Linked DNA regions of Homo sapiens. The protein of the gene in region 7 purifies or fractionates together with the protein of the main gene of each other region. This does not show direct contact. Each region holds a gene or a part of one and is shown on either strand. Other genes may lie near its edges.

Evidence for each region.
Region 1: the proteins of CDK5RAP2 (region 7) and CEP135 purify together in Homo sapiens (co-immunoprecipitation; one large-scale study listed by IntAct). This does not show direct contact.
Region 2: the proteins of CDK5RAP2 (region 7) and WDR62 purify together in Homo sapiens (co-immunoprecipitation; one large-scale study listed by IntAct). This does not show direct contact.
Region 3: the proteins of CDK5RAP2 (region 7) and PRKAR2A purify together in Homo sapiens (affinity purification with western blotting; 2 studies listed by BioGRID and IntAct, with this or other methods). This does not show direct contact.
Region 4: the proteins of CDK5RAP2 (region 7) and CEP170 purify together in Homo sapiens (co-immunoprecipitation; 2 studies listed by IntAct). This does not show direct contact.
Region 5: the proteins of CDK5RAP2 (region 7) and PDHX purify together in Homo sapiens (co-immunoprecipitation; one large-scale study listed by IntAct). This does not show direct contact.
Region 6: the proteins of CDK5RAP2 (region 7) and ELAVL4 purify together in Homo sapiens (co-immunoprecipitation; one large-scale study listed by IntAct). This does not show direct contact.

What each region holds. Positions count from the first base shown.
Region 1 is NC_000004.12:56,014,353-56,018,848, reverse strand, and holds part of CEP135 (centrosomal protein of 135 kDa), read right to left. Parts: intron 1,202-4,496; coding exon 992-1,201; intron 1-991. UniProt on the Homo sapiens protein: Centrosomal microtubule-binding protein involved in centriole biogenesis. Acts as a scaffolding protein during early centriole biogenesis.
Region 2 is NC_000019.10:36,102,753-36,106,604, reverse strand, and holds the end of WDR62 (WD repeat-containing protein 62), read right to left. Parts: coding exon 3,754-3,852; intron 3,658-3,753; coding exon 3,531-3,657; intron 3,450-3,530; coding exon 3,398-3,449; intron 3,263-3,397; coding exon 2,624-3,262; intron 2,088-2,623; coding exon 1,930-2,087; intron 1,838-1,929; coding exon 1,577-1,837; 3' UTR 1,497-1,576; downstream 1-1,496. UniProt on the Homo sapiens protein: Required for cerebral cortical development. Plays a role in neuronal proliferation and migration.
Region 3 is NC_000003.12:48,841,375-48,845,870, reverse strand, and holds part of PRKAR2A (cAMP-dependent protein kinase type II-alpha regulatory subunit), read left to right. Parts: intron 1-4,496. UniProt on the Homo sapiens protein: Regulatory subunit of the cAMP-dependent protein kinases involved in cAMP signaling in cells. Type II regulatory chains mediate membrane association by binding to anchoring proteins, including the MAP2 kinase.
Region 4 is NC_000001.11:243,248,203-243,252,698, reverse strand, and holds part of CEP170 (centrosomal protein of 170 kDa), read left to right. Parts: intron 1-4,496.
Region 5 is NC_000011.10:34,954,227-34,958,722, forward strand, and holds part of PDHX (pyruvate dehydrogenase protein X component, mitochondrial isoform 1 precursor), read left to right. Parts: intron 1-3,157; coding exon 3,158-3,357; intron 3,358-4,496.
Region 6 is NC_000001.11:50,142,737-50,147,232, forward strand, and holds part of ELAVL4 (ELAV-like protein 4), read left to right. Parts: intron 1-2,220; coding exon 2,221-2,461; intron 2,462-4,496. UniProt on the Homo sapiens protein: RNA-binding protein that is involved in the post-transcriptional regulation of mRNAs. Plays a role in the regulation of mRNA stability, alternative splicing and translation.
Region 7 is NC_000009.12:120,569,915-120,574,410, forward strand, and holds part of CDK5RAP2 (CDK5 regulatory subunit-associated protein 2), read right to left. Parts: intron 2,128-4,496; coding exon 2,060-2,127; intron 1-2,059. UniProt on the Homo sapiens protein: Potential regulator of CDK5 activity via its interaction with CDK5R1. Negative regulator of centriole disengagement (licensing) which maintains centriole engagement and cohesion. Involved in regulation of mitotic spindle orientation.

The DNA.
Region 1 (4,496 bases), on a different chromosome or scaffold from region 7:
AACACCTTGAGATTTTTATCGGGAAAAATATTCTACTTCGGAAGCACTGAACTGTTCAATCCTTCATTCAAGTCTTACTTTTTTTTTTTGAGACAAGGTCTCACTCTGTTGCCCAAGCTGGAGTGCAGTGGCACAATCTCTGCTTACTGCGGCCTCGACATCCTGGGCTCAAGTGAACCTTCCCTGCCTCAGCCTCCCGAGTAGCTGGGACTATAGGCACATGCCACATGCCTGACTAATTCTTTGTATTTTTTGTAGAGACGGGGTTTTGCCATGCTATCCAGGCTGGTTTCAAACTCCTGAGCTCAAGCAATCTGCCTGACTCGACTTCCCAAAGTGTTGGGATTACGGGTGTAAGCTATCGTACCTGGCCTCAAGTCTTACTTTTAAACAGAGAAAGAATGTATTAGGATATGCTGATTTATAATCAGAAAATTCATAATCTCCTAGATAGCCATCTATTCCAAAACATTACCCACTTTCATCACTACGTTTGCCTGAGAAATCTTGCAAAGAATCAAGCAGTCAAATCTGGTTGTCAAAATCCTGTAGTCAAAAGTAACTATTGTAGGCTGGGTGCAGTAGCTCATGCCTGTATCCCAGAACTTTGGGAGGCCAAGGCAGGCAGATCACGTGAGGTTGGGAGTTTGAGACCAGCCCGGCCAACATGGTGAAACCCCATCTCTACTAAAAATACAAAAATTAGCCAGGTGTGTTAGCAGATGCCTGCAATCCCAGTTACTCAGGATGCTGAGGCATCCTGAGATGCCTGAGGGAGAATTGGTTGAACCCAGGAGGCGGAAGTTGTGGTGAGTTGAGATCGCACCACTGAACTCCACCAGCCTAAGCGACAGAGCAAAACTCCATCACAAAAAAAAAAGTAACTACTCTAAAAGGAAACAAGTATATGCATGGTGTGGTGAATACTAAAGTAAAATAATTAGAGTAGGGCTCAATAAAACAATGTGCCAAGACAATTTATCTTTCTTACCCTCTCAAACTCAAGGTTTTTCGAATTCAATTGCTGGGTCATAATATCTTTGCCTGAATCAAGTTTAATGCAAAGTTCTCTAAGAGATGACAAGTCATTTAATACTGTTGCTTTCTCATCTTCTTGATGTCTCAGCTCTTCTTCTAATCGAGACATGGCTTTTGCCATTGATGAGATCTGAGATTCATAAGCATGATGGGCATTTATGTGCTGAAAAAAGAAAAAGAAACAAGTAAAAAGTTAAAATAACCCAATAATTTTAAGAACTTGAATTTGTACAGCCAACAATCTCACTTTAGAAAAATATGACAGCCAATTTTTGCTTATTTTAAAATACTCTCAGGAAGCTGCCTACTATTTAAAGATGACCTATTTAATGCTTAACAAAATGAATTGTGTATAATTATTAATCATGGTAACTGAGTATCTCATGTATATATTTATATATTTGGAAATGTAAAAAAGAAAGTTATTGTATCAGGGTGTTGTGAATATGAGGGATTTTTGAGGTTGCATTAAATTTTTCCTTTAAAAATTATCTTTGTTATAATAATGTCATTTCAAGAAAAAGTAATATATATACATATCACTCCTCAACTGTCTTCAGTTAAATTCTAAATTCCAAAAATGGGGTTTACTTCAAAACTATATACCTGGATAATTTAAATTTAACTTAAATAAATAGTAAACAACTTTAATATTTTAATAACTGAAATAATGAAAAAAATTTCAAATAATGATAAATTTTTTTTTCTAGAAGAATCCACAGTTGAAATTTCTCACAATTTGAATTATGAGTAATAAATACAAACTGATATAAACTCTACTTCTAGGTTTTGGGGAGAATTCTGCATTGAAAAATAAAATTATTGCAAGAGGCTATTAAAACGGCTGGGTGGCTCACGTCTGCAACCCCAACACTCTGGGAGGCTGAGGTGGGAGGATCACTTGAGCCCAGGAGTCTGAGACCAGTCCGGGAAACATAGTGAGAACCTGTCTCTACCAAAAAATACAAAAATTAGCTGTGTGGTGGCACATGCCTATAGTCCTTGCTACTTGGGAGGCTGAGGCGGGAGATCACCTGAGCCCACGAGTTCAAGGCTGCAGTGAACTGTGGTTAAGCCATTCCACTCCAGCCTGGCCGATGGTGCAAGACCCTGACTCTTAAAAAAAAAACTCCACAAATCCACATTGAAAATCTAATATTGTGCTGTGAAGATTTAATCAATTTCAAAAATTGCAGAAAAGTATTTAGATTTTTTAGTGCATTAATAAAAGCTCCCCTAAACAAATATAATACTTTAGTATTGTATTGTGAAATTGGCTTATACTTTAGTAACAGCCAATTTCATATACCACATACGAACATGAACAATAATAAAGAACAAAATAATTGAAGATTAGTTGAGAACAGTTGCTGAAAAACTCTTTTGAAGGTTGAAAGGCACTCCTTTAATTAGTTATTATACCCTTCTTAACAGAAAAACTTTTAGAGATAGTGTATTAGTTCCCTAGGGCTGCCATAACCAACTACCACAAATTAGGTGTTTTAAAAAAACAAAAATTCATCCTTTCACAGTTCTGGAGGCTGGAAGTCCAAAATGTGGGTGTTAGCAGGGCTGGTTCTTCCAGAGCTTCTATGGGAGAATCTGTCCCATGCCTCTCTCCTAGCTTCTGGTGGATGCTGCCAGTGCTTGGTGTTCACTCACTTGCAGACATATCACTCCAATCTCTGCCTCCATCTTCACACAGCCTTCTCTGTACGTACTGTATCTAAATTTCCCTCATCTTTGAAGGACACCCATCATTCACTAGGTTAGGGCCTGCCTTAATCCAGCACAACCTCATCTTAACTTGTTCACATTTGCAAAAACCCTGTTTCCAAATAAGGTCATGTTGACAGATACTGGGGATTAGGATTTCAACGTATCTTTCTGGTGGACACAATTCTCCTACCCTCTGATCCCCCAAAATTCATGTCCTTCCCATATACAAAACACATTCACTCCATCCTAACATTCTAGCATCAACTCTAAACCCAAAATCTCATCTAAGCATCATCTGAATCACATATGGGTGAGACTCTGAATATGGACCACACTGGGACAAAATTCTCCTCCATCTACAGACCTATGACACTGGAAAACAAGTAAACTGCTTCCAAAATAAAATGGTGGGATAGGCATACCATAGAAGTCCCACTGTAAAAGGGAGAAAATAAAAGGAATAAAGGAGTTACTAGTCCAAAGTAAGTCTGCAACCAAGCAGGCTGAATCCATTAGATTTCAAAACCCAAAAATAATCATTTGTGCCTTCATTCTCTGGTGCTCTGTTCTCTGAGCCAGCCAGGGGGGCCCCACCCTGTGTCCCACAGGGGCAGTGGCCTTGCCCTCTGAAACCAAGCAGACAGACAGTAGCTCCATCATCTGGACCTGTGATGTCTGGGCTTGTGGTGGTAGCCACAGCCCCACCAGCCTCTGAGTTGCCCTTGGTGGCCTTGCTGGTCTCTGAGCTACCCTTAAGAGTCATTCTGTCCTTTTCTTGAAGGTGAACTTGCAGCCAACTAGCTCTGTTGGTCTGTCTTCTGCTAGTAGGATCCCAGAAGTCCAACAACCTTCCTTCTTTTCATCCCATTTCTGTTCCTTTCAGTCAAAGCTGGAAGTGATTCTGCTGAGATGATTGATTGGATTCATGAGTCACATATCTAATCTCTTCACCAAGAGGTTTTCTAGCCATACTCTGGAGCACACTATCTGGATAGGCTAAGAATTTTCCAAAATCATCAAGTCCTGGTTTATTTTTTTTTCCTTTTTTTTGAGACAAGGTCTTACTTTGTCACCCAGGCTGGAGTGCAGTGGCATGATCTCGGCTCACTGCAGCCTTGACCTCCTGGGCTCAGCCCCCCAAGTAGCTGGGACTACAGCCACGTGCCACCATGTTTGGCTAATTATTTGTATTTTTTGTAGAGATGGGGTTTTGCCATGTTGTCCAGGCTGGTCTTGAACTCCTGAGCGTAGTTTTTTGGTGGACACAGGTGGATTGCTTGAGCGATCTGCCTGCCCTGACCTTCCAAAGTACTAGGATTACAGGTGTCAGCTACCACACCTGGCTTCATGTCTTGCTTTCTTTTTTGCTTTTCAGTTCCTTGCTCCATTTCTCTCTTTCCTCTCATATTTTACTGTAAGTAACAAGGAGAAACCAGGATGTCTCTTCCGCACTTTGCTTGGAAATCTCCTCAGCTAAATATCCGAGTTCATCCCTTACAAATTCTACTTTTCTCCCAACAGTAGACCGTAACTTAGCCAAGTTCTCTGTCACTTTATAACAAGTAACATCTTTTCTCAACTCTGTCTGAGACATCACCAGAGGAAACATTCATATTTCTGGCAAAATCCATCCATGACAACATATGTATTCTGTAAATAATAGAAGTTTTCTTTACAGCTCTCATCTCTTCTGAGTCTTCATCACAATTGCCTTTCATGTCCCTATTTCTACCAATGAT
Region 2 (3,852 bases), on a different chromosome or scaffold from region 7:
TTCCTGAGATGTCCTCTATCAAGCTTCAGCCCAAATGTCACCTCGAAAGGCCTTCCCTGACCCTTCACCAGCAATGGATCTCCCCAACCTATCTAGAATTATACAGAGCTCTAATTCCTGCATCTGTTTGACTGTATAGAAGGTGAGTGGCCATGAGGGCAGGTGCGTTGCCTGATGTTCCTTCTGCTACAGTGCCCGGCACCTGGGTGGGAACTGGCAGGATTTTTTTTTTTTTTTTTTTTGAGACTTGCTGTGTCACCCAGGCTGAAGTACAATGATGGTGTGATCTCAGCTCACTGAAACCTCTGCCTCCTGGGTTTGAGCGATTCTCCTGCCTCAACCTCCTGAGTAGCTGGGACTACAGGTGTGCACCACCACACCCCAGCCAAGAGTGGCTTTTTTAGCAGACACCCCATGTGGCCAGATGCCTGCTGTCTGGGGGAGCTGGTAGCAGTGCTGGGAGCTCGTGGAATGTAGAACTTCTGAAGGGGAAGCAGTTATTGGTCCCAGCTGCTCGTGGCCTGGGCCTGCTGCCAGGATCATACAGTGGGCAAGCCTGCCTGGGTTTCTTGTTTTATTTTGTTTTATTTAAAGAGACGGGGTTTTGGCCAGGTGCGGTGGCTCATGCCTGTAATCCCAGCACTTTGGGAGGCCGAGGTGGGCGGATCTCCCAAGGTCAGGAGTTTGAGACCAGCCTGGCCAACATGGCAAAACCCCGTCTCTACTAAAAATACAAAAATCAGCTGAGTATGGTGGTGGGTGCCTGTAATCCCAGCTACTCGGGAGGCTGAGGCAGGAGAATCGCTTGAACCCGGGAGGCGGAGGTTGCAGTGAGCCAAGATCGCACCACTGCACTCTAGCCTGGATGACACAGCAAGATTCCATCTCAAAAACAAAAATAAATAAATAAATACATGAAATAAAGAGATGGGGTTTCACCAAGTTGCCCAGGCTGGTCTCAAACTCCTGGCCTCAAGCGATCCTCCCACCTCAGCCTCCTGAGTAGCCGGGATTATAGGTGCAGGCCACCATACCCAGCTTGGGCAAGCCTGTTCATGGGTCCTCAGTTTCCCCTGTTGCAGATGGGGACACCACCACCGTGGACTTTGTGGGATCTAGTGTGGCCTTGGCCCAGAGGCCCTGAGCCATGATATGGCAAAGCGTGGACTGCTGGGCAAGGTAGGCACATGGTGATCACAGCAGCCCCAGTGAGTTCTCAGGCACTGGCAGGGGGCAGGTAAGAGGGTCTGGCTCCTCCCTGGGGCACAAATGGGCCCCACTGGGTAAGCACCTCACACTGGTCTGTGGCAGCTCTGTGGGCAGTGTGGGAGGACTGGCCCTGAGGTCATGGCTGCAGTTCCTGAACTTCTTGGGAGCGCTGGTCCCATGCTCTCCACTGACAGACACGAGTCCTCTGGGCATCACCTTCTACCCTCCCTCCCCACTTCCACTTGAAGAGGGCTTTGTGGATAGGCCCAAACAGACACCAGGAACCATTCCTCAAAGCTGTCAGTTTATTCGCTTAAAATACCTAAGTCCTCAGAAGCAGCAGGGCTGCGGTGGAGGGGCTGCGCCCTCAGTGCCCCCGTGCCTTCCTCCGCACGGCCTGCACCAGCAGCTCCGAGTAGTGTTCCAGCAGGGCCTGCAGGTCTGGGCTGGCCAGGGGGTACAGCGTCGGTGGGGACGGGGGTCCTGGGCTGGGCAGAGCCTGGGCTGGGGCCACACTAGTCCCCACCAGGCATTCAGCCTCCAGCTGGCTGTGGATCCACAGGAAGGTGGAGACCAGCTCAGTCCGTGCCTGCTGCTGCCCGGTGTCCACCTGGCCACTGGAGACCAACTGCAAGGGATGCCAGCCTTGTCAGGGGCCACCAAGGCCGGGCGGTCTCAAGAGACCCCTCAACCCTTTCCCAACTCTGGGGCTTAGCTCACCACACGGTAAAGGTCGAGGGCTTCTTGGAAGGTGGTCTGCAGCCTGTGCAAGATGTTCCCCACCCTGCTCAGCTCAAGGGGAGATGGGGGCAGGGCTTCAACCGGCACCCAGGGCTCACTCCAGCGGGCAGGGCTGCCCTGTAACAGACCAAGTGCACCTGGGGTAGAGAGAAGGGAATGAGCAAGATGAGCTGCATTCCATTGGTGTGAGCGGCCAGAGCGACTGGGTGGACTCCATGCTGTACTTCTGTCTGGAACACTTCTCTGGGTCCCCAAGGCTCCCTCCCCTTCACTCCTACAGGTCTCTGCTCCAATGCAGCCTCCTCCCTGAAGCCTCTTCTTATCTTCTGGTTTGTAATCCCAACCCCTGTCCCCACCCTGCACTCCCTCGCCCTCCTCTGTCCCTCCTAAGCATGTGTCACTTCGTGATACATATGACGGGTTCCTTAAAGGTTTAGTCTGGGCATTGTCCCCATTGAAGCTGTCAGTTCTCTGTGTTGTTTACCACCATGTCCCATGTCCCAGGGTTTAGCACAAAGCCCAACATGTAATGCTCATTAAATATTTAAGTTAATGCACGAATGAATGAATGGCACAGTCCCTGTGGCCAGGTCAAGTATCCATCTTTGGAGCTGAGCCAACTAGCACACAGGATGAGCTTAGGGGACAGTCCTTGCTCCAGGGCTGTACTCACCGGAGGTGGGCTCCAGGAGGGAGGCAGTGCCGCCAGGGATGCCAGGCCGGGCCTCTGGAAGCTGGGGGTTACTGGGGTGGGCAGGAAGGCCAGGGGACTCAGGAGCTGGGAGACTTGGGCGAAAGGCAGAGCCGTGGAGCCTCAGGGCGCTCTCTTCCACAGGGCTAGGGGCTGGGAAGCTCACTGCAGGGACGGTGACGCCAGGCTGGGTATCCACGGGGGGCTGCAGGAGCCCATCACAGGCACTTGACAGGGTCAGTCTCAGGTTGGCCCGGGCCTCGTGGTTGCCCCAGGAACGCAGGGCAGGCTCTTGGCCCTCACTGTCCAAACTGGGTGTTGTCGCGGTGGTGATGGCCTGAAGCTCCTGGCCCAAGGAGGCCAGCTCCCCAACGGACGATGGCCTACGGAGGGGCTGGGCCAGTGTGGCCACGATAGGGCCCTCACTGTCACCGAGGGAGATGCTGCGTGATATCCTGGCACGGGAGCTGGCAGTGGCCTCCATGTAGGAACAGGTGGAGGGGGCATGGACACCCTGAGCCAGGCCTGGGGTGGGTGCAGATGTGGGCGTTGGGAGATTCCTGTCTGTGGGCAGCACGGAGGAAGCAGGGACACAGGACGCCAGGCTCGTAAGGCAGGGAGCTGTAACGGAAGCAGATGGCACTGACTCCACCACACAGAACTGATGGCTAGGGCCCCCACGCCCCACAGCTAGGCTGGACATCCGGCCACTCGCCGAGAAACCCAGGACTGTCCGTCTGGGACTGGGGCACTCACGTGGTGGGCGCCAGGCCTCCAGGGTCTCTTCAGCCTTCCCTGCAGCGAGGACCTGCAGGCACAGCTCTGAGGTGAGGACAAGGCCTCAGGGTTCCCAGCCCCGTGCCCTGACGGAGGTGGGCCCAATACTCACGTGGGTCCTGTCTGGGGAGGCGTAGCCAGTACCTGCTCTGGGCTGGCTTCCGCCTCGGTCCATGAGCTTGACCTCTGGAGACTTCACAAGGCACTGGGTTGCCCGGGGAGGGAAGGTATGGGTGAACCTGTGGGGAGGAGAGCAGGGGGGATGATTCTCATTCAGCCTGCCCTGGGGCACTGTTGAGGAGCCAGAGGGTGGGCAGTGCTTGGCCAGCTTCTACCTGGATGCCTTCTGGAGGCTTGAGAGGAACTGCGTGGAGATACTCAGGCGTGGGTTGAAGAAGTGGTCTTCAGCTTCAGAGGCCTCCACGTCTCCCAGA
Region 3 (4,496 bases), on a different chromosome or scaffold from region 7:
AAGCTCAAGGTATCCTCCCACCTGGGCCTCCCAAGTAGCTGGGACTAAGGGCATGTGCCACCATGCCTTACTAATTTTAAGTGTTTTATAGAGACGGGGTCTCCCTGTGTTGCCCAGGCTGGTCTTGAACTCCTGGCCTCAAGTAATGCTCCTGCCTTGGCCTCCCAAAGTGCTAGGATTACAGGCATGAGCTACTGCTCCTGTCCAAAATAACACTTTCTACATCTGATCTACGCAAGAGTGTTAAGAAGCTATTACAGTTTCCTTGGTTGCTTCAACATATGCTTTGTCAATTTAACAGTAGAATTGGCCTACTTTTGAACAACTAAAATTTAACAAAACAATGAAACCATTTGAGAGGCCAAGTTAGGATCTTAGTGTTATTAGATCACACACACACAAAACTAGTTCTGAGTTGTATCTGGTCTGGCCCAGTATTCAAGTCACGGCAGGGAAGGAGTTAATTAACGGTCATTGCTGTGGGAGGTCACAAGCTTCAGTGCACTGGGCAATCTCCCTAAGTGTATTCATGCTAAAGGAGTAACAAGGGCTCTTCTGGGTTTCCCTTGATTTATTGCACATTACATCATGGGTTTTTGGGAAATCAGAAATTATTTTCTAAACTCTGCCACAGGTTTGCTTTGTGGTCTTGGACAAATTCTCAAACCTGTTTGATCTCAGATTTTCTTATCTTTAAGTTGAGGACAGTGACAACAATCTTCCAGGGACAAATTTGTTTTTAAAAGCTTTATTTCAGGTTTGTTTCACTGTCATCTCTGTAAATCACAAAGCAGTAACCTGCTTTGAGACAATTTTTATTTACACAACACTTTAGGATTTTAGAAATTAGCCTCAGATGAGTAAAAGTTTACAAGTTTTTTTTCTTTTTTATTATACTTTAAGTTTTAGGGTACATGTGCACAATGTGCAGGTTAGTTACATATGTATACATGTGCCATGCTGGTGTGCTGCACCCATTAACTCGTCATTTAGCATTAGGTATATCTCCTAATGCTATCCCTCCCCCCACCCCACAACAGTCCCCAGAGTGTGATGTTCCCCTTCCTGTGTCCATGTGTTCTCATTGTTCAATTCCCATCTGTGAGTGAGAACATGCGGTGTTTGGTTTTTTGTCCTTGCGATAGTTTACTGAGAATGATGGTTTCCAATTTCATCCATGTCCCTACAAAGGACATGAACTCATCATTTTTTATGGCTGCATAGTATTCCATGGTGTATATGTGCCACATTTTCTTAATCCAGTCTATCATTGTTGGACATTTGGGTTGGTTCCAAGTCTTTGCTATTGTGAATAGTGCTGCAATAAACATACGTGTGCATGTGCCTTTATAGCAGCATGATTTATAGTCCTTTGGGTATATACCCAGTAATGGGATGGCTGGGTCAAATGGTATTTCTAGTTCTAGATCCCTGAGGAATCGCCACACTGACTTCCACAATGGTTGAACTAGTTTACAGTCCCACCAACAGTGTAAAAGTGTTCCTATTTCTCCACATCCTCTCCAGCACCTGTTGTTTCCAGACTTTTTAATGATTGCCATTCTAACTGGTGTGAGATGGTATCTCATTGTGGTTTTGATTTGCATTTCTCTGATGGCCAGTGATGATGAGCATTTTTTCATTTGTCTTTTGGCTGCATAAATGTCTTCTTTTGAGAAGTGTCTGTTCATATCCTTTGCCCGCTTTTTGATGGGGTTGTTAGTTTTTTTCTTGTAAATTTGTTTGAGTTCATTGTAGATTCTGGATATTCGCCCTTTGTCAGATGAGTAGGTTGCGAAAATTTTCTCCCATTTTGTAGGTTGCCTGTTCACTCTGATGGTAGTTTCTTTTGCTGTGCAGAAGCTCTTTAGTTTAATTAGATCCCATTTGTCAATTTTGGCTTTTGTTGCCATTGCTTTTGGTGTTTTAGACATGAAGTCCTTGCCCATGCCTATGTCCTGAATGGTAATGCCTAGGTTTTCTTCTAGGGTTTTTATGGTTTTAGGTCTAACGTTTAAGTCTTTAATCCATCTTGAATTAATTTTTGTATAAGGTGTAAGGAAGGGATCCAGTTTCAGCTTTCTCCATATGGCTAGCCAGTTTTCCCAGCACCATTTATTAAATAGGGAATCCTTCCCCCATTGCTTGTTTTTCTCAGGTTTGTCAAAGATCAGATAGTTGTAGATATGCGGAGTTATTTCTGAGGGCTCTGTTCTGTTCCATTGATCTATATCTCTGTTTTGGTACCAGTACCATGCTGTTTTGGTTACTGTAGCCTTGTATTATAGTTTGAAGTCAGGTAGCATGATGCCTCCAGCTTTGTTCTTTTGGCTTAGGATTGACTTGGCGATGCGGGCTCTTTTTTGGTTCCATATGAACTTTAAAGTAGTTTTTTCCAATTTTGTGAAGAAAGTCATTGGTAGCTTGATGGGGATGGCATTGAATCTATAAATTACCTTGGAAGGAAATAGAGACACAAAAAACCCTTCAAAAAATTAATGAATCCAGGAGCTGGTTTTTTGAAAGGATCAACAAAATTGATAGACCACTAGCAAGACTAATAAAGAAAAAAAGAGAAGAATCAAATAGACGCAATAAAAAATGATAAAGGGGATATCACCACCGATCCCACAGAAATACAAACTACCATCAGAGAATACTACAAACACCTCTACGCAAATAAACTAGAAAATCTAGAAGAAATGGATAAATTCCTCGACACACTCTCCCAAGACTAAACTGGGAAGAAGTTGAATCTCTGAATAGACCAATAACAGGATCTGAAATTGTGGCAATAATCAACAGCTTACCAACCAAAAAGAGTCCAGGACCAGATGGATTCACAGCCAAATTCTACCAGAGGTACAAGGAGGAACTGGTACCATTCCTTCTGAAACTATTCCAATCAATGGAAAAAGAGGGAATCCTCCCTAACTCATTTTATGAGGCCAGCATCATCCTGATACCAAAGCCAGGCAGAGACACAACCAAAAAAGAGAGTTTTAGACCAATATCCTTGGTGAACATTGATGCAGAAATCCTCAATAAAATACTGGCAAACTGAATCCAGCAGCACATCAAAAAGCTTATCCACCATGATCAAGTGGGCTTCATCCCTGGGATGCAAGGCTGGTTCAATATACGCAAATCAATAAATGTAATCCAGCATATAAACAGAACCAAAGACAAAAACCACATGATTATCTCAATAGATGCAGAAAAGGCCTTTGACAAAATTCAACAACCCTTCATTCTAAAAACGCTCAATAAATTAGGTATTGATGGGATGTATCTCAAAATAATAAGAGCTATCTGTGACAAACCCACAGCCAATATCATACTGAATGGGCAAAAACTGGAAGCATTCCCTTTGAAACCTGGCACAAGACAGGGATGCCCTTTCTCACCACTCCTATTCAACATAGTGTTGGAAGTTGTGGCCAGGGCAATTAGGCAGGAGAAGGAAATAAAGGCTATTCAGTTAGGAAAAGAGGAAGTCAAATTGTCCCTGTTTGCAGATGACATGATTGTATATCTAGAAAACCCCATTGTCTCAGCCCCAAATCTCCTTAAGCTGATAAGCAACTTCAGCAAAGTCTCAGGATACAAAATCAATGCACAAAAATCACAAGCATTCTTATATACCAATAACAGAAAAACAGAGAGCCAAGTCATGAGTGAACTCCCATTCACAATTGCTTCAAAGAGAATAAAATACCTAGGAATCCAACTTACAAGGGACGTGAAGGACCTCTTCAAGGAGAACTACAAACCACTGCTCAATGAAATAAAAGAGGATACAAACAAATGGAAGAACATTCCATGCTCATGGATAGGAAGAATCAATATAGTGAAAATGGCCATACTGTCCAAGGTAATTTATAATTCAGTGACAAGTTTTTGTATTATATCGTCATTCTTTGTCATCTTTGATACCTTTTTCAAAATTGAGTTGACTTAAAATCTTTGTACCCTATTTTATTGGTATTTAAGTATTTTTGGTGTCTCAGGTGGCTGCGCTACATAATTATAGAAATCACTACAAGGTGGATTTCTATTTACAAATAATAAATGAAAAATACATTGCATACAATGAGATACTTCATACCTGTTAGGATGGCTGGTATTAAAAACAGAAAATAGCCAAGATGTGGAGATGTTGGAACCCTTGTGCATTACTCATGGGAATGTAAAATGGTTCAGCTGCTGTGGAAAACAATTTGGTGGTTCCTCAAAAAGTAGTTAAACATAGAATTATCATAGGTAGAGCAATTTCACTCCTAGGTATATAACCAAAACACCTTTTTTTTTTTTTTTTTTTTTTTTTGAGACAGAGTCTTGTTCTGTCACCCAGGCTGGAGTGTAGTGGCGGGATCTTGGTTCATTGCAACCTCTGCCTTCTGGTTCAAGCAATTCTCCCACCTCAGCCTTCCGAGTAGCTGGGATTACAGGCATGCGCCACCACACTTGGGTAATTTTTTGTATTTTTAGTAGAG
Region 4 (4,496 bases), on a different chromosome or scaffold from region 7:
TGGTAAATTTCATTGTGTTCTGAGATTATTTTGTATGGAAATAATCTGCCTGTTCCCTATTTTAACATTAGAATAGTGAAATTTATACTGTAAACCTTAGCATACATTCTGCATATTAATGCTGTTATGGTACTTTTTAAAATTCTGTGCTTCGTGATTTATTTGATTTGTTCCAAGTATCAGTTTCTTGTTCCTTTTTATCTACTGAAAAAAAGAACTAGTTTTATTATTGTATCTGATTGCAATTAGATAATGCTCATCTAGTACTAAATATTGTATATGCTTAAGCTTTTTTGTCAAAATGTTTTTTATTCCACAAAATTGTATTCCTGAAAAATATTTTTTCTATACTAATTAATAGGTAAAGACTTTTCTTTCTTATCTGTCCCAAACACTGGGATGTTAAGCAGTGTACTCTTCAACTAAGTATCTGACAGACAACCTGATATTTAATTGCTAACTAAAGTATCTGTACAGTTGCAAATTATTCTGGAAGTATAACAAAAGAGCAGTTACGTGCCATTTGAAGAATGCTTGGTGAGTAGATAGTATTGACTGGAGCATTCAGTGTTGATCTGTTTCATTAAGAAATGGGATACTTTTGATGGGAAGAAATATCTTTATTTCATTAATAACCAAAATTTCTAATCAGATACCCTAGGTTTTTATTTACTTACTCAAAAATTTCATAAAGGAGTGTTCAGCAGTGAGTTAGCCATTGTGAGAGATAAAAAACATCTGTCTGGTAGTGTGGTTGATTAAACTGGATATATTGTCCAGTTTAGCAGAAATGTTTTAGCCAAAGCCAGTGACATAGCCAATGTGTGTTGCTGTTAAAGCCCACTTTTATATCAAATAAAGGTGGAAAAACAAAACAGCAAAAGCAAAGTTAAAGAAAACCTCATAAAATCTACTTACATACAAACAGGAATTGCAGAAAGTATAGAAGTGGAAAAGAATCCCAAGCATGCATTGTTGAGGTCTGAAAAACAAATGACACATAGCAGAGAACAAGTCATTTTTTAAGTATATCCATAAGTAATAAATGATATAGAAAATATTACCCTTTGAAACACAATATTTATTGAATCGTTGAATAATACCTACCAAATTTTGAACATTTCCTAGGTGCCAGGAAGTTTATGTGTGTGTGGTGTGTGTGTATTTAATTTCTGCAACAAACTTCTAAATTAAGGTATTATTTTTACACATTGAAAAAATTTGAAGCATAGAGTTAGTGAATAACTTTGCCTCTGCGTTACACATTCCTAAGTGATAGGGCCTATAATTGAACCTTTGTCTTTTTGGCTAAAGCCAAAATTCTTTCTACTCATCTTTTTTAGTAAGTTAAAGGGTACCACTTATTTCCTTACTCTGGTTCATAAAATTTTAGAATTCAAGGGAACTTTAGAAGTCAGCTCATACAATGTATCACCCACTACTAATATCTCTGAGATGTTATTGGGTCCAACTTCTCCACAAACCCTTCCCTGGGCATAGGAAAGCCTGTTTAGCTTCCAAAAAGTGTAATAGGAAGATCTCACTTAAATTGAGCTAGTAGCTGCTTTTACTATATAACTTCTTCCCACTGGTTGCAATTCAGTCTTTAGGAGTAAGATGAAGTAAGGTTTTTCTCAATATATTAGCTAGATTTTCTCTTGTCTAAATGTTAGGACACCTCCAACTTCATATGGTTTCCTTTGCCATCCCTCACATCTCTCAGCTGGATTCAATCAGTTTTGTCAGTGCTATTCTTTGTGTTCTGATCTTGTTTCCATATTTAATTCTGCAGTTATGGTCTGAATGCAAAGTGCAGTGAAATTGTCCCTTTCCTTATTTCAAGCCATACACTTGTGTTTAAAGTCTAAAATTGTATCAACTCTTTAACAACAGTCATCTCTGCTAATTCAAAGCAAAAAGCAGAGAGAGAGAGAGAAATGTTACATGGCTTTTCAAGTTATATTTATGTAATTCAAGGTACTATTTTTTGAGATTTTGTTCTCCTTTTCTAATGTTCATAAATGGCCTTTATTAAATGATAGTGTTAGTAACACCTATTAAGTAATGATAGGTTAAGTTTCTTTTGATGTTGGTCATGGGGTTTTGTTTTATTTTAGTGTTCCTGATTAACCAATAAAAAGTTGGCAGCCTTATGTTGATTCTTAATTTGTTTTCTGAAAAATTGGTCTGGAAACCACTGATGTAGTCAACATAAACCAACATTTTTACACTTAGCTAGATTTCTCCCATTGTGTATAAACACACAGGTGATGTTTTTAAACCAGTATTTTACCATTGCCTCCTATTAAATTTCATCTCCGTGAACGTAGCTATAGTTAAAACTTGAGATCTTCTTGAATCATGATTCTGTCATCCAAGGGATTAGCTTTCCTTCCTGGCTTTTTGACATTTATAAATTCAACAAGCCAAACTCTTATGTCTCCATCCTGGCCATATACTTAATATAGCCAAGGACAAAGCCATGCACATTTATAAATAGAATGAATGTTACATAAATAAAAGATGCTGGGAGGAAAGGTGACACAAAAATAATGAAAACCATTCGGATGGGTTTTTTTTGTTTGTTTGTTTTTGGGGCCTTTTTGTTTGTTTTTGTTTTTGTTTTTTTGAGACGGAGTCTTGCTCTCTCGCCAGGCTGGAGTGCAGTGGCTCAGTCTCGGCTTACTACAACGTCTGCCTCCTGGATTCAAGCTATTCCCCTGCCTCGGCCTCCCGAGTAGCCGGGACTACAGGCACGCCCGGCTAATTTTTTGTATTTTAGTAAAGACAGGGTTTCACCATGTTGGCCAGGATGATCTTGATCTCCTGACCTCATGGTCCACTGCCTAGGCCTCTGAAAGTGCTGGGATTACAGGTGTGAGCCATGGCGCCTGGCCTTGTTTTGTTTTTTAAATTAAAGAGAAAACCATTATATCCTCCAGCAGTAAAGGAATTAGATGAAGTTTACAATATACTGGAGGATATGGATAATTCTTTTACGATGTAAAGTCAAGTAAGGATAGATGCTATGAAGAAAAATTAATCAAGGTAAAGAGACAGTGGTAGAGGACTGCTGTTTTACATTTGTTTTCAAGTGTTCATTCAGGTAGTTTTCAAATAATATTTTGAAAAGAAATAATATGAAAAACCTTTTCACCCTACATCTTATCTGCTGAGTTACCACTTTTGCCAATCCAGTAAGTAGCTATTTTTATTATTTCTTATGTATTCTTCAATGAACTTTATTTATTTATTTATTTATTTATTTATTTATTTATTTTGAGACAGAGTCTTGTTCTGTCGCCCAGGATGGGGTACAGGGGCAGGATCCCAGCTCATTGCAGCCTTGACCCGCTGGGCTTAAGCAATACTCCCACCTCAGCCTGTTGAGTAGCTGGGACTACAAGTGTGCGCCACCATGCCCAGCTAATTTTTTGTAGAGATGAGGTCTCACTATGTTGCCAAGGCTGGTCTTGAATTCCTGAGCTTAAGTGATCCTCTTTCCTCAGCCTCCCAAAGTTCTAGTATTACAGGCATGAACCACCACGCCTGGCCATGAATTTTTCTTCACCTCAAGCAAATATAAATACATATTTTGTGTCCCCTCTATGACACAAAAAAATAGCCTCTTTATCCACTATGCTACACCTTGAGAACTATCTTAGAGTGGTTAGGGAATCCCTCTTTCTGAGGTGACATTTAGCAGAGAACTTGCATTAGGTAAGGAAGCATCTTGTAGGTATCTGAGTGGAGAGTATTCTACTCAGGTGCGGTGGTTCTGAGGCAGGAATGGGATAAGTGAATTTGGAGAACACTGTGGCTGAAGGTGAGTGAGGAAAAGGTGCTTATAGGAGGAAATGAGGTTGCATAGAGATTTTATTCATTGATTTTAAGTGCTATGAGCATTCATTGGAGGATTTTGAGCAAAGCCAAAAAATTGGGTTATATTTTTAAAGAATGGCTCTGGGAATTCTTTAAAACACTGGGAACCATGAGATAAGCTAGGAAATGATTGGAATGATCTGGTTTAAGAGACATTAATGGCTTAGACTAGAGCGACAGTAGTGGCAATAGTGAAAGTTACTAGTTTCTGGCTTTAGAGAGTCAAATGTTTTGGATATGTTAAGTTTGAAGTGTCTGTTAAACGCCCAAGTGGACACATCAGGTAGGCAGTTAGATATGTAAGTCAAGCATTCAGAGGAGAGGTTTGGACTGAGGATAGTTAAATGTTAAGCATCACCAGTAGACTTAAAGGGATCTCTTGGCTAGGGAGTTAGACTGAGAAGAGATCCAAGAATTGAGAATTGGTACTTTCCACATGGAAAGCTGAGCAAAAGAGAAGGCGCCATCGAGGAGGATTGAAAAGTGGACAGTGGGGTGTGAGGAAACTGAAGAGTGTGTTGTCCCACAAGCCAAGTAAAGGAAGTATTTTTAGAGATAAGGAGTGATCAGTCCCCTGTATCACCTTTAATCACCTAAATACTTCATAAGAAATC
Region 5 (4,496 bases), on a different chromosome or scaffold from region 7:
ACTTAAATAATTACTTAATATATTGATTTTAATATCAGAATTAAAACAGACAATATTTACTTGTGCCTTTAATGGAATGAGCCCTCTCAATTTCTCTGTTGGACATACTGCTGTAAATGTTTTGCATCTCATATCCCTGTGTACACAGATGAGATTAGGTGAGCTGTTTGTAGCACATTTGCAGGTGATTGATTGGTTAAGATGTGAGAATGTCTCTGGTACAGAAGCCTCACACTAGTGACCTGGGCTTGAGGGATAGAATTCAGCCTCTGTCTGAGAATTATGAAGAAATAGTTTGTCACAGACCTTACTACCCATTATCGTATATGTTGATGTTTGCCCTTTAGTGCTGCCAGCCACATGCTAAGCCTTTAAGCATGAATTTCTAACCCATACCAAGGGGTCAGTCCCCTGTAGTCTAATCTTGATCCATGTTGAATGTATTGTTTTAAAAAATCCATAATTTGAAGGAAAACACCACAGCAATAACAACAGCAATAATAATGCCTTTAACAATGAAAATGAAAACAAGTTACTAGCTATCAGACACTATTCTAAGGGCCTTACATATAACTCATTTATTCCTCATAACAACAATGTGAAGTAGCTACTGTTATTTGCATCTTACAGCTCAGAAAACAAGCATGGTGAGATAAGGAAACTTTACTAAGGTCACATAACTAGTAAGTGGTGGAGCCAGCGTTGAAACTCAGGAAGTCTGTACACAACTGGGAGGGAAGGCTAATATTTGAAATGATAGACTCAACATTCAATATTTCAGTATCGATGAGCTCTAAGTTGATAGAGCTATGTGTAAAAACCCTGCATTTAATATTAAGAAATCATTGGCAGAAGAGTAAGAGAGGGCTTTGGTCAAGTAAGCTGAGTGCATAAGAAAACTCTGGCATTTGAGGTGTCCTTAGCTCCAGATGCTTTGGTAGGGCAGAGTGTATCCATGGAGGTACCATGAGCTACCATGGAGGTAGCTCAGAGAGGAAAGGGAACAGTAACAGAGGCCTGCTTGGTTTTTAAACAGTTTTGCAAAGAGTATTATTTACGTATTTATACTAAGTCTACACCAGTTTTGAGTATTTGCCTACTACAGTGTAAGCAAATGCTTACAGGAAATTAGCACACCTCTGAAAGATCTCTGCACCAAAGGAATAGAAAAGGTTGAAGAAATTATCTTAAATTCATATAGAGATTTTAATGACTTTAAATGGAATTATAATCAACTGTATTTTATCTTCTGTTATATATTCAAGTTGTATGGTTGTATATCACTTGTCCTTGTCCATTGTATTTGGGTTTCATGCTTCATGGTGTCACTTTTTTAAATAGAAAAAAATGTGAATAGTTAAAAATAAATTTTATTTGATATTTAGATAATGGTAAAAATTGAAATGATGATAAATGCTGTTTATTGCCTACTTGTGAAGGTGTCAATGTTACGTTGGTAGAGTATATATGGAATCATTTATATGATTTACAGTAAATGAAACAGAAGGTGAGGTACCACTTTCAGATGTAGTACAGTTGTCTGACTCAGATTTTAGAAATCTATTGATATTTTTAAAGCAAAACTTTTTTTAATGCTTTACATTTGAATGATGTTCTTTGTACTTGGATATTGATCCTATTTCTGATTCAGTTTTGAAAGGAATTAACATCAAGTGGACTTCATGTCACTTAACAGTGCTTTTTTGTATACATTTTTAAAGAAAATTAGTCATTTTACTTTGATTTTTGAGTTAGCAATTCACAAGCAGGTAATTAAACACTTTTAGAAGAAAAATATTGGTCTAATAATAATCTTAACTCATCTTTTTGACATAGTAAAGAAAAAGGAACTCTGCAGAAGCAAAATTTTTTAGTATGTGGCAAACAACTAAGCAACTAGATTTTTCTTGGCTTTCTTAGTATTCTTCCATAGCTTGTAATTCATTAAACATTCCTATTCAGCTTTCTATACTAATTTCATATATATATATATGTATTTTGCTTCATGAAAGCATTGCTGCTTTTCTTCTTCATCAGTAATTAGTAAACTTAGCTTCCTAACCCCTTATAACTTATGCCTTATTAACGATAGTGAACATACCAGTAAGCATTGAAATTAGTGTTACTCTGATATGTCAAACTCATTCTAGAAGTTATGCTTTTCCTTACCATTACTGTATTAGTGGACGTCCTGCAGCCTATCATTCTATTGTTCATTAAATACAGCTAATGAACCTTATTTAGAGTAATTGAAAGGGAATAATAGAAGATTTTAAGGGAATGACATTTTCTTCCAGGAGTGAACTTATAAAATATTGTTATTTGAAGGTTTTCTAGGGACTTCTTTTTAGTAAGTAAATTAGAATTAGCCCTTTCTTTATAAATTAATGCTGCTGAAATGCTTAAAATATACTTAACTTTTAAAAACATTATCTTTGATTTTATTTAAGTGTTTAATTGGCATTATCTGTGGAAGAAATGCTTTATTAACTGAGACACCACTGTGTTTCTGATATACTTATAAAAAAACTCATGAGGTTTTATTTTATTTTTCAGGTTTTGTAAATAGATATACAGGGAAATAATTAAATATAAAGAAGTAGACTATATTTAACATTAACTGGAATAGTTAACCAGTTCTATCTATACATTAGAATGTTCATCTTTTCAGACTAAGTTTACTGAAAAGATTCTTGCATTAGGTAAATTTTAGTAGATTGGACTAAGTTGAGGGAGTTAATCCCTTCTGAGCTTTTAGAATTCTAAAGCCATTGCATAGAAACTCTCTGGGAAAGACAAATGGTTAAGATATGTAGCCACAGGCTCCTGTTTGGATTTGTATTGACATCAAAAAGAAGATGATAATGATGGATCTTACATGTTTATTTGAAGGCTCTCAGAAAGAGGATACATTCTAGATTTATCCTTTATTTCAGAAGGTAGCATTAGCAAGTGGGAAGAGGAGAATGGTGAAGGAAGGCATAAGTGGGAGAAAGTGGAGAAGGTGACAGGTGGAAGGCAGAGGCAAACTGTCTTGGAAGCAGCTTTTAGCTCAAATTAAGATATCTTAAGGGGAGAATTACCCAACAAAAGAACAAACTACTTAATGCAGTCATGGGGTTTTACTTCTCTACAGTTACTTCTTTTTTAAATATAGGTTGAAGAAGGAAGTAAAAATATACGGCTAGGTTCACTAATTGGTTTGATAGTAGAAGAAGGAGAAGATTGGAAACATGTTGAAATTCCCAAAGACGTAGGTCCTCCACCACCAGTTTCAAAACCTTCAGAGCCTCGCCCCTCACCAGAACCACAGATTTCCATCCCTGTCAAGAAGGAACACATACCCGGGACACTACGGTGAGTATATATTTATTCAAAGGATGATGTAAAAAAAAAAAGTTATGGCAGTTCTTATGGAATTGTAATCATTATCATATTCGCACATCGTTGTACATCACGTAGGAAGTTGCTGTTCTCAGCACACTCAGACCTTAGAGTGTGTGTTTTTTTTTTTAACCATCATTGTTCATTCAGTAAATAAATAGTTACTGAATATCTGCTATGTTCCAGGTACTCTAAAAGCCCTGCTTGCACAATGGAAAACCAAACAGTATGTGTCCATGTTGAGGTTGAATTAGGTTTTAGAAGTCTAAAATGGTATTCAATATACCAAACTTGATACTCTGTTCCCATTTATGGAGTTCTAATTACTGTTACAGGAATTCCAAGCTCAAATGTCTATCTGATATAAAATAGAATTCATGTTTTAACATGCATTCGTTTTCAAACTAGTCTGCATTATGACTTTCCGGCACAGACTAGAGCTCAATTTTGTCTGTTCTGTAACAAAACAGATAACTTAATACACATCATTTCACTTTAGTTTTACATTGCTTTAATAGAAGAACTCTGTAAATTCTAACATTTCATTTATTTAGTATTCTATATAATTATACAACATTACTTTTTCTTTACGAGAAAAAGATCTTCATAAAGTAGACCTCTTCATTCTTAAACATTTTTTCCTTTAGTTTATCATTGTCAGAAAAGAATCCACAGTGCTTTTTTTAGGGGGGGGCGTGCGGAGGTGGGTGACGGAGTTTTGATCTCATTGTCCAGGCTGGAGTGCAATGGTGCAATCTCAGCTTACCGCAACCTCGGTCTTCTGGGTTCAAGCGATTCTCCTGCCTCAGCCTCCTGAGTAGCTGGAATTACAGGCATGTGCCACCATGCCTGGCTAATTTTTTTGTATTTTTGGTAGAGATGGAGTTTCTCCATGTTGGCCAGGCTGGTCTCGAACTCCTGACTTCATGATCCGCCTGCCTCGGCCTCCCAAAGTGCTGGGATTACAGGCGTGAGCCACTGCGCCTGGCCTGCTTTTTGAAGTACTGATTTTAAATTCCTAGTGCAGTGTTTCTGACTCTGTTGCCTTGACTCCCATTTACTGTCTCCTCTTTCATTTACCCTAAAAATTGGAAGACAGTCTCACTGATGCT
Region 6 (4,496 bases), on a different chromosome or scaffold from region 7:
ACCCTATGATCCCAAAAACAGAATCCTAGGACTATCCCCAATAGAAATATGTACATTTTTGTACCAAAATGTTGTACATAACGCTCATAGCAGCATTATCTATAGTAGTTCAAAATTAGAAACAATCCAAATGTTCATCAACAGATAAATAAAATGTAATATTTCCACACAATGGAAATTGCTATAGCAGTGGGAAGAACAATGCATTGTTACATGTAACAGAGCAGATGACACTCCATACATGTGTGAAAAGGCACAAAAGAGTATGTGTTGTATGAGTCCATGTATATAAAGGTAAAAAAATAGGTAAAACAAATCTGTGGACTAGAATTCAGAATAGTGGTTACCTTTGAGGGGTGAGGTAAATGACAGGGATGGAGAACCTGAGAAAGGCATTTGGGGTGCCAGTCATGTTCTGTATTGTGATCTGAAAGGTAATTACCCAGTTGTGAATTGTGTTCACTTTGTAAACATTCTTTGTGTTGTACCCTTAAGATTTATACACTTTATTACATGTATGTTATAGTAAATGAAAATGCTTCCCCCCTAAATCCTCTGAGCAGGCAAATGGTAATAATAATGGAAGCTACTAGTTATCAGATGTCTGCTATGCCTTGGTTTCCTCATCTATAAGACATAGAGAATATTAGAATATGCTTCATTGCCTTCTTGTGAGGAGACAGTGAGAGAAGTCACATTGGATGATTGGCAGAGTAACTAATAAACATCAGTGATTGTGGTTATGTGCCCACCACTGTTCTGGTGCTTTACATAAGTCATATCACTGGATCGGTTCTTACCGCTTTGCCATACGGTGGCATTGTTCCCATTTTTCAAATGAGGAAAATGAAGACTCTTAGGATTTAAGTCCCTTGCCAAGGTCACACAGCTAGTAAGTGGCAGAGTATGATTTCATTTCCAAGGAGTTGATGATCAGTTTCTGAGGAGATGGAAGCCATTTTATGATGGACAAATAGAGGACGGTGTAAGACAAAATGGAAAGTTGCGAATTATGGGCTGCGTTTGGGGCCAGGAAATCCGGGTGCAGGCCTGGACTTTGCCCCCATTTTTCTATGATAACAGAGAAGTAACTGGACATCTCTGGGCTTCATCTCGAATGTGAGTGTTGAGCTAGATTTTGTTCCCTTATGTGCCTTCTGGCTCTGCAATTTTGCAATTCTCCATGTTTGTCATTCCATACAGGGCATCTTCATGACCTGACTTCATGAGCTTAAACTCATTTTTCATATAAAACCCTATTCCAGCATTTTCTCAGAACTGTCCCTAAATCTCCCTATCCTATAAGCAGAAGTAATTGCTTCTGTATTGCATGATCACTGCCCTATACCAGCTGTTTACCTGTCTGTGTCCTCTATAGACTATAAGCTCCCTGAGGATAGGGATTCATTCATTTCTTTATTCTCATACGTGCTACCTGGAACATTCACACCAGCCAGAAATCTTTGTTTAATTAAATATTTTAATCAAGAGAAAGTCCTTTTTGAGTAATATGTGAGTGGACAGCCTCAGGCGGTGCTGGACCTAACGTGGAGACCTAGAGAAAAGTTTGCCTCCATGTTTTTTGTTTTATTAGAGGTCTGGGAGAAACAATAACAGAATGGCTAGATTAAAAAAAAAAAGACATTAGATGACTTTGCAGCTCCCTAGAATGTACCTGTAAAATCTAAAATTTGATCAGTGATTAAGCATCAGTGAAAATTTAAACCCTTCCCATATTGAACAACCCCACTTAATTTAATGTCATTTTATTTTATGAGATAGTTAATAAACAGGTACTGTATTTGATCTTGTGAGTGTAGTCCTCTATATTTAGCTTTTTCAGCTTTAATGGAACTATAATTTTAATCATGATTATTACTTTACATTTTAATTATAATTTGGTGTGGCTTAAGTATACATTTCTGAGAGTGATTGTGTAATGAAAACAGGAATTAGCTTTTCATTAACAAAATAATGGGAGAGTTCCTACTGCATTCTAGTCTGTGTTCAAAATCTATGGGCTGGCCTAAAAATAGAAAGAGGAGTTTAACATTTTGGTTAAAAACATGCTTCTAAATTGGCTGTGTTCACAACCCAGTCTCTTGCTCCATCTTGCTTTATCTTCTTCTCTTTCTTTTCAAAAAAATTAATAAACTTTTAAAAGAGACTTTGTGTCTGAGATTTCAAAAGGCTTTTTCAATTGTTTTTATTTTTATTTAGATAATTAGCACCATGGAGCCTCAGGTGTCAAATGGTCCGACATCCAATACAAGCAATGGACCCTCCAGCAACAACAGAAACTGTCCTTCTCCCATGCAAACAGGGGCAACCACAGATGACAGCAAAACCAACCTCATCGTCAACTATTTACCCCAGAATATGACCCAAGAAGAATTCAGGAGTCTCTTCGGGAGCATTGGTGAAATAGAATCCTGCAAACTTGTGAGAGACAAAATTACAGGTATGCACAGGATTTGAAGCTATGTTGTTCCATTAGATGTGCAGATCTTAGCAGAAATGCACATGTGTGATGGTGCACCTGAATGTCTATATCATGTACCCTGCATGCAAGATGGCATGGATACACAGTCATAAACTCACACTACATACACCACATAAGACCTTATTGTAGATTGGTACTGCTGGGGAGCAGATGAAGATTTTGGTACATCTTCATCTTCATGTAAAATGATCCTTTGATTTTGTCTCCTTTTATTCTTAATCAGCCATTCCTTCCCTTTGTTCTATAGTTTCCAGTCCCACAACTCTGCCCTCCCTATACTATACACTAGTTTTTGCTCATGTATTCTCCTCCTCTCAATATTTGCTTCATGTGTGCCCAGTGTTCTTCCATGTGCCTGAAACAAGTGTTTTAAAGGGGGCCACTGTGGATGTGTGGACAGTTGACACAACTGCCCTTGTCCCTGGGGAGAAACAGGCCCTAAGGATAGCAGATTATTCTGGAATACAACTACTCTGCAGTAGGAGGGAAATGCTTAATGAAGATCTGCATTTGAGGTATTTTGTTTTATTTTATCTGTCTGTTCGTTTTGAAGATACTCTTTGAGATGTGAGGGCATTTTTACTTGAAAGTGAATCAACACCCTATACAACTTCAATACATGAGATTTTTAGGTTCTGATTTTCTCCTAATTGACAACTGTTCATTGAGAACCAAATGTTTGCCAGACACTGACACTATAATTCTTTGGGGGAAAGTTTCCCTATAATCTTATTGGCAGTGAGAATATTTTCTTGGAATATATTAGGCTACATAATGATGGCAGTGAAGCTGCTACTCTCTGATACTCCACTCCTGAAATCATTCATATCCAACTTTGAATACTTGTCAGTTTTGAGTATTGACTTTTGTTTCCCTTTCCCTAGACAGTTTAATTAATCAGCAACTGTCCTAGAGTTTTTTTTTTTTTAAAAAGGAAGCTGCATCATTAAAATAGGGATATACATCATCTTTATTTTAAATCAGAGAATACATTCTATATGTGTGTGTGTAGATATATACATTCTTCTGTTCTCATAATTCACATGTAAATCTGTTCCCCTTATAAATTAAGTAGTTTGCAAAATCATAAAACTTAAATACCACTGCTACTTTCCAAAATACAAGTCACCTAACACTCCAGACATAATTTTCTTATTTGAAAAACTGGAAGATAATGCTTGTCTCAAAGGGCTTATTGTGAGGATTAAATGAGAGACTAGATATATTGCATCTAGCACAATGTCTACTGCACAGTGGTCCCTCAGTAAATAAATCTATTATTGTAAGTACAGCTAGTATGCTTCAAGGAAAGTGGCCAGAACAGAAAAAAAAGTATCTATCAAATTCTCCAAATAGGGCCAGGCTTTGATTATCTTGTACCAGAGCACTGGAACATCTATCCTTAAACAGAATTTCCCATACGTTCAGAAAGCCAATATTTAGATTCCTGAATAATCTTTATATAATAGGATGATAATTCAAACCAAATTAAAACCAGTTAACCATATGATTCTTCCTCCTACTCCTATATAGAAAATGTATTTTTAGTATAGCCTTACCTTCAAAATACAGACTCTGCCAGCTATATTAGTGAATATTATTAATCACCTTTTCAGAATTCCTTCAGAACTGTAGCGAGATTTTTGAGAAGTACTGATTCATGGTGTTGTTCCTTGTTTTCTAAAGACACATGTTTAAACAAGCAGATTCCTTTACTGAAAGAATGCTAATTTGGTAGTTCACCGAGTGGATTTGAATAGGAGTGACAGCTTCGAAGACAGCCTTTAATTTGGTATACAAAACCAAAATTGTCAACTTTGGTTTGTTTAGCACCCTCTCCAGCACAAGCAGAGACATACAGTAGCATCTGAGCTTAAAGAAGAAGCTTATGGGGTTGAAAGCAGAAATACAATTCAGGCATAAATTTATAATTATGCATTCTTCTTAAATTCAGGCCCAAAAAATTTTTATTTGTAGAGAGCTTATGGGAATG
Region 7 (4,496 bases):
TTCCGATACTTTAAAAGTAGCCAACAGGAATAAATGAAATGAGATGAGATGAAGTGAAATACACAATGTTGAGAGAGGAAAGTACACCTTAGTCAGCCTGGGGAGAGCCAAAAAGGGTGGTGAGCTTTGAGCTGAGTCTTAAAGAGGGAGCAAGGAGGCACCGGGCAGATGAGAAACAAAAGGAAGGAGAGACAGCCCAGGCAAAAGCACAGAGGTGGGAGTGGGCATGGTGTTCGGAAACCACTTAGCAGAAAAGAGGCTAAGGAGTGGGCAGGGCAGACTGTGAAGGGCACGCTAGTTTGTTTTCCTGTTCCTCAAACGGGCCATGCCCTCACCTGTGTCTGGGATGCTCATCCCCTCCTTTTTCCTTACCTACATCTGACTTATTCAGGTCTCCGCTCCAATATCAATTTCTTGGGAAACTCTAGCCTGACCCACCTCCACACCAGAGGAAATCTCCCTTTAATCCCCTCTCACAGCACTTGATACATCTTTGCTCCTGACACTGACCATACAAATTCTCATAAGGGTTTGTCTGTCTTCTCAGCTTAACAGTAACCACATTTGAGGTTGAATTTTAGCACTGAGCCCAGAGTCTGGCATGAAGCAAATGTATACTATCGGCTAAATTAAGAAATAGGCTGGCCAGGCACAGTGGCTCATGCCTGTAAACCCAGCACTTTGGGAGGCTGCGGCGGGTGGATCACCTGAGGTCAGAAGTTCGAGACCAGCCTGGCCAACATGGTGAACTCTGTCTCTACTAAAAATACAAAAATTAGCTGGGTGTGGTGGCACGTGCCTGTAATCCCAGCTACTCGGGAGGCTGAGGCAGAAGAATTGCTTGAACCCACGAGGCGGAGGTTGCAGTGAGCCGAGATCACACCACTGCACTCCAGCCTGGGCAACAGAGCGAGACTCCATCTCAAATCAGACTTGTTGGATTTTGCATTTAAAGTAAAAGTTGCCAATGAGTGCAGTGGCTCATGCCTGTAATCCCAGCACTTCGGGAAGCTGAGGCAGGTGGATCACTTGAGTCCAGGAATTCGAGACCAGACTGGGCAACATGGCAAAACCGTCCTGCAAAAAATACAAAAATTAGCCAGGTGTCGTGGCACACGCCTGTAGTCCCAGATACTAGGGAGACTGAGATGGAGAATTGCTTGAGTCCAAGAGGTCAAGGCTGCAGTGTGCGTGATCGCACCTCTGCACTCCCAGCCTGGGTGACAGGACAAGACCATGTCTCAAAAAAATAAAAAGTAAAAATAAAGTAAAAGTTAATAGGTTCCTCAGGAAAACATGAAGGTGCCCTGTAAGTTAAGGGATTTTCCAGAAATAAACCGTGGGACTCTTTTCCTGTCTGCTCCAAAATCTCCCTCCTCTTGCACATATCTCAGCACTGTGGAGAAGAGAAAAAAAAGAACAAGTCAAAATATCTTAGAGATATTTTGCAAAAACTAGCACTACCCACAGAGACGCTTAAGCATTCACTTTTTTCAGAAATAAAAATTATGAAGAATGCTTAGCTAGACCCAAACTGCAAAGTCTCCTCATAATCCAGCTTAAACACAGTACGCTACTTATTTACTCAGAGCCGTCTCCTGTGGTCTAACCAGCTATTTGTCTCCAAAGGGCAGGCCCGTGTAGGAATGCGGGGCCTCAGCCGGCAAACAGGATCCAGCAGCCTGCCAGGAAGGCCTTGGCACGCTACAGTCCAGATGGCAGCTCTCCTGGGCCTCCAGCCACTGGCCTAGCTGCCAATTCAATGTCCAGCCTCCGTGCAGTTGTTCAGTTCAGCAAACGCTCACTGAATCCCTATAGCTTTAGTAGCAACAAATGAAACTCATGAAGTATGGCCAAAAGGACAACAATTCCTCTAGTCCAGTGTTTATGAAAGGAGGTGGAAAGCAAATCAATACATACAAAAAATACTGAGCACCTACGGTGTGCCAGTTCAGGGAAGCCTCTGGGCCCCAGAGATATGAAAGCTCAAGATGCTCACAGTCCAATGTCTACTTTCCTTGTTCTTTACTCAAGAGAATGCCTGGTTTTGTGTACTTACGACCATTTCCCAACCCAGCATTGGGGTTGATGCCATCCAGGTCATCTGGTACACTGGGAACAAGGCCACTAGGAGAGAACACATGAGATAAGAGATGAGCTAATGTTTGAACAACAGAGACTGTTAAGACGGTCTGGACTGCACATGACAATCATCCCATGGCCAGGAGGGATGCACACAGCTGGGCTACCTATGTGGCATGAAGCACAGAGGTTAAGAACTCAGGCTTTGGGGCTGAGTTCCAGCTCCAACACTTGATAGCTGAGTGACCTTCAGTAACATCATTCATTCAGTCATACATCAAATGTTCTGTGTGCCAAATATGTGCTAGTGGCAGAGGCACTGTGACAAGTACAAGATACTTATGTTTCTGAGTCTCACCCTCTTAATCTGGTACATGAGGATACCATGCCCTCCCTGTAAAAATTAAATTCGTTCATGTATATAAACACAAAGCACATAGTAAGTATTCAGTAAACGGCAACTATTGTTGTTGTTACTATTATCATTATGACTACTAATATGCCTATCACCACCTCTGGGAATCAGACACCAATTTAGATGTTTTAAGAATGTCAAACAATGCAAAATTCACTGATCCAAGAAGTTGTCTTGGTTGAATTACATAAATAAATTCAGTGAGGATCTGGAGACACTGACAGAAAACTAACCCATAATAGGAGGTGTGGTGTGACACAAAAGACACTACCCTGATCTATTCTAAGCTCTGCCATGTATCTCTCTGAGCCTCACTTTCTTTAGCTGTAAAATGAGTACAGCAGCTACCTCACAGAGTAACTGGCAATTAAACAAGATATTGCAAGGTACCTTGTGGGTACTCCACAAATGGGAGCAAAATATCATGTCGCCTTGAAACCTACAGTGCTTTACAATTTATAAAAGATTTACCATCATTAGAATTGCCTAATTCCCTGAGGGTGCACACATTTTTCAAAGGAAGGCCCCAAGGCCCAGACAATTTTACTGTCCTAGCCAGGGTCACATGGCGGTTCTGTGGAGAGCCAGGTCCAGAAGCCAGGTCTTTTATGTCCAACTCCCACGAATACTTCCCTATCCCACACTGTAAAGTAGGAGTTGATGGAAACAGCTTGACTTCTTGGCAATTTGCTCTTTCCATGCCTCTAAATCCAAATTCATTGTGCTCCTAGGATAATTTTGCCTGACCACCAAACTTTGGAGTTGGAATGTACCTTCAAGATCAAAAACAGGCAAAAAATTGGAAATATCATAAAATTCCAACATTAAGAAAATGATCACAAAAAAATGTGTCCGGGCTGGGTGCAGTGACTCATGCCTATAATCCCAGTATTTTGGGAGGCCAAGGCTGGTGCATCACTTGAGATCAGGAGTTCGAGACCAGCCTGGCCAACATGGTAAAACCCCATCTCTAATAAAAATACAAAAATTAGCCGGGCATTGTGGCAGGTGCCTGTAGTCCTAGCTACTTGAGAGGCTGAGGCAGGAGAATCACTTGAACCCAGGAGGCAGAGGTTGAAGTGAGCTGAGATCATGCCACTGCACTCAAGCCTGGGTGATAGAGTGAGACTCCATCTCAAAAAAAAAAAAAATTTAAAAAAAAAAGTGTCCCCTGTAAAGGTAAATGAAAAAACGTAAACAGAATATGTCCTCAATTATGAAAACAAATATATACAGTACATAAATACTGAAGTCACCTCAAGTCCATTTTGGAAATAGGTGGGCTACAGATATATAACAAGACAAAGGAAATATACTGAAATATTAAAAATCATCATTAGTAGGGAAATGAGAGGTTTTCTTCCTTTTTAATGTTATATAATTCTCAATTTCCTCCAATAAACATCACTAAAAGGACAAAGTCAATTTTCTAAACTGAATTTTAAAAACTAAAATCAAGTTCAACCATCACCTTTTGCAGATGGTGGTCCAGAAGCCCAAGGTCACATACACCAGGTTATTGGCCAAGCTCAGCCTAAGGTCTGGTCCTGCATTCTCAATCTGGGGTTCTCTCCGGGTACCAGAGCCATTACATTAACTCCCACTGGCTAAAACTGCCCATGAATAACTCAAGCCAAGATCAATCACAGCTGAAAAGTACCTAGCAAACAAAGCCAAAGATTCTGGTCTTAGACAAGCTTCCTACAGGCAAACACTGAAGTTTGAAAAATGACATCTGACATCCCAACTCTTAGACAAAACCACTATGTAATGCAGAAATTTTTGCTTGGATCCTGCCAAATTTCCACTCGGGCTTTACCTACCCACTTTTAAAATGCTATGAATCTGTCATCTGCACCCTCCAGTCAGTTCCAACTACACCTCCAGCCACAAGCAGCTCCCTCTTTCCATTCTAATCATTCACTTGTAGCCTTATAATTAAGGCTGGGGCCTCAGGGATACTCACGAGAAATGACAATGTAAGCAAAACAAAAGGGCT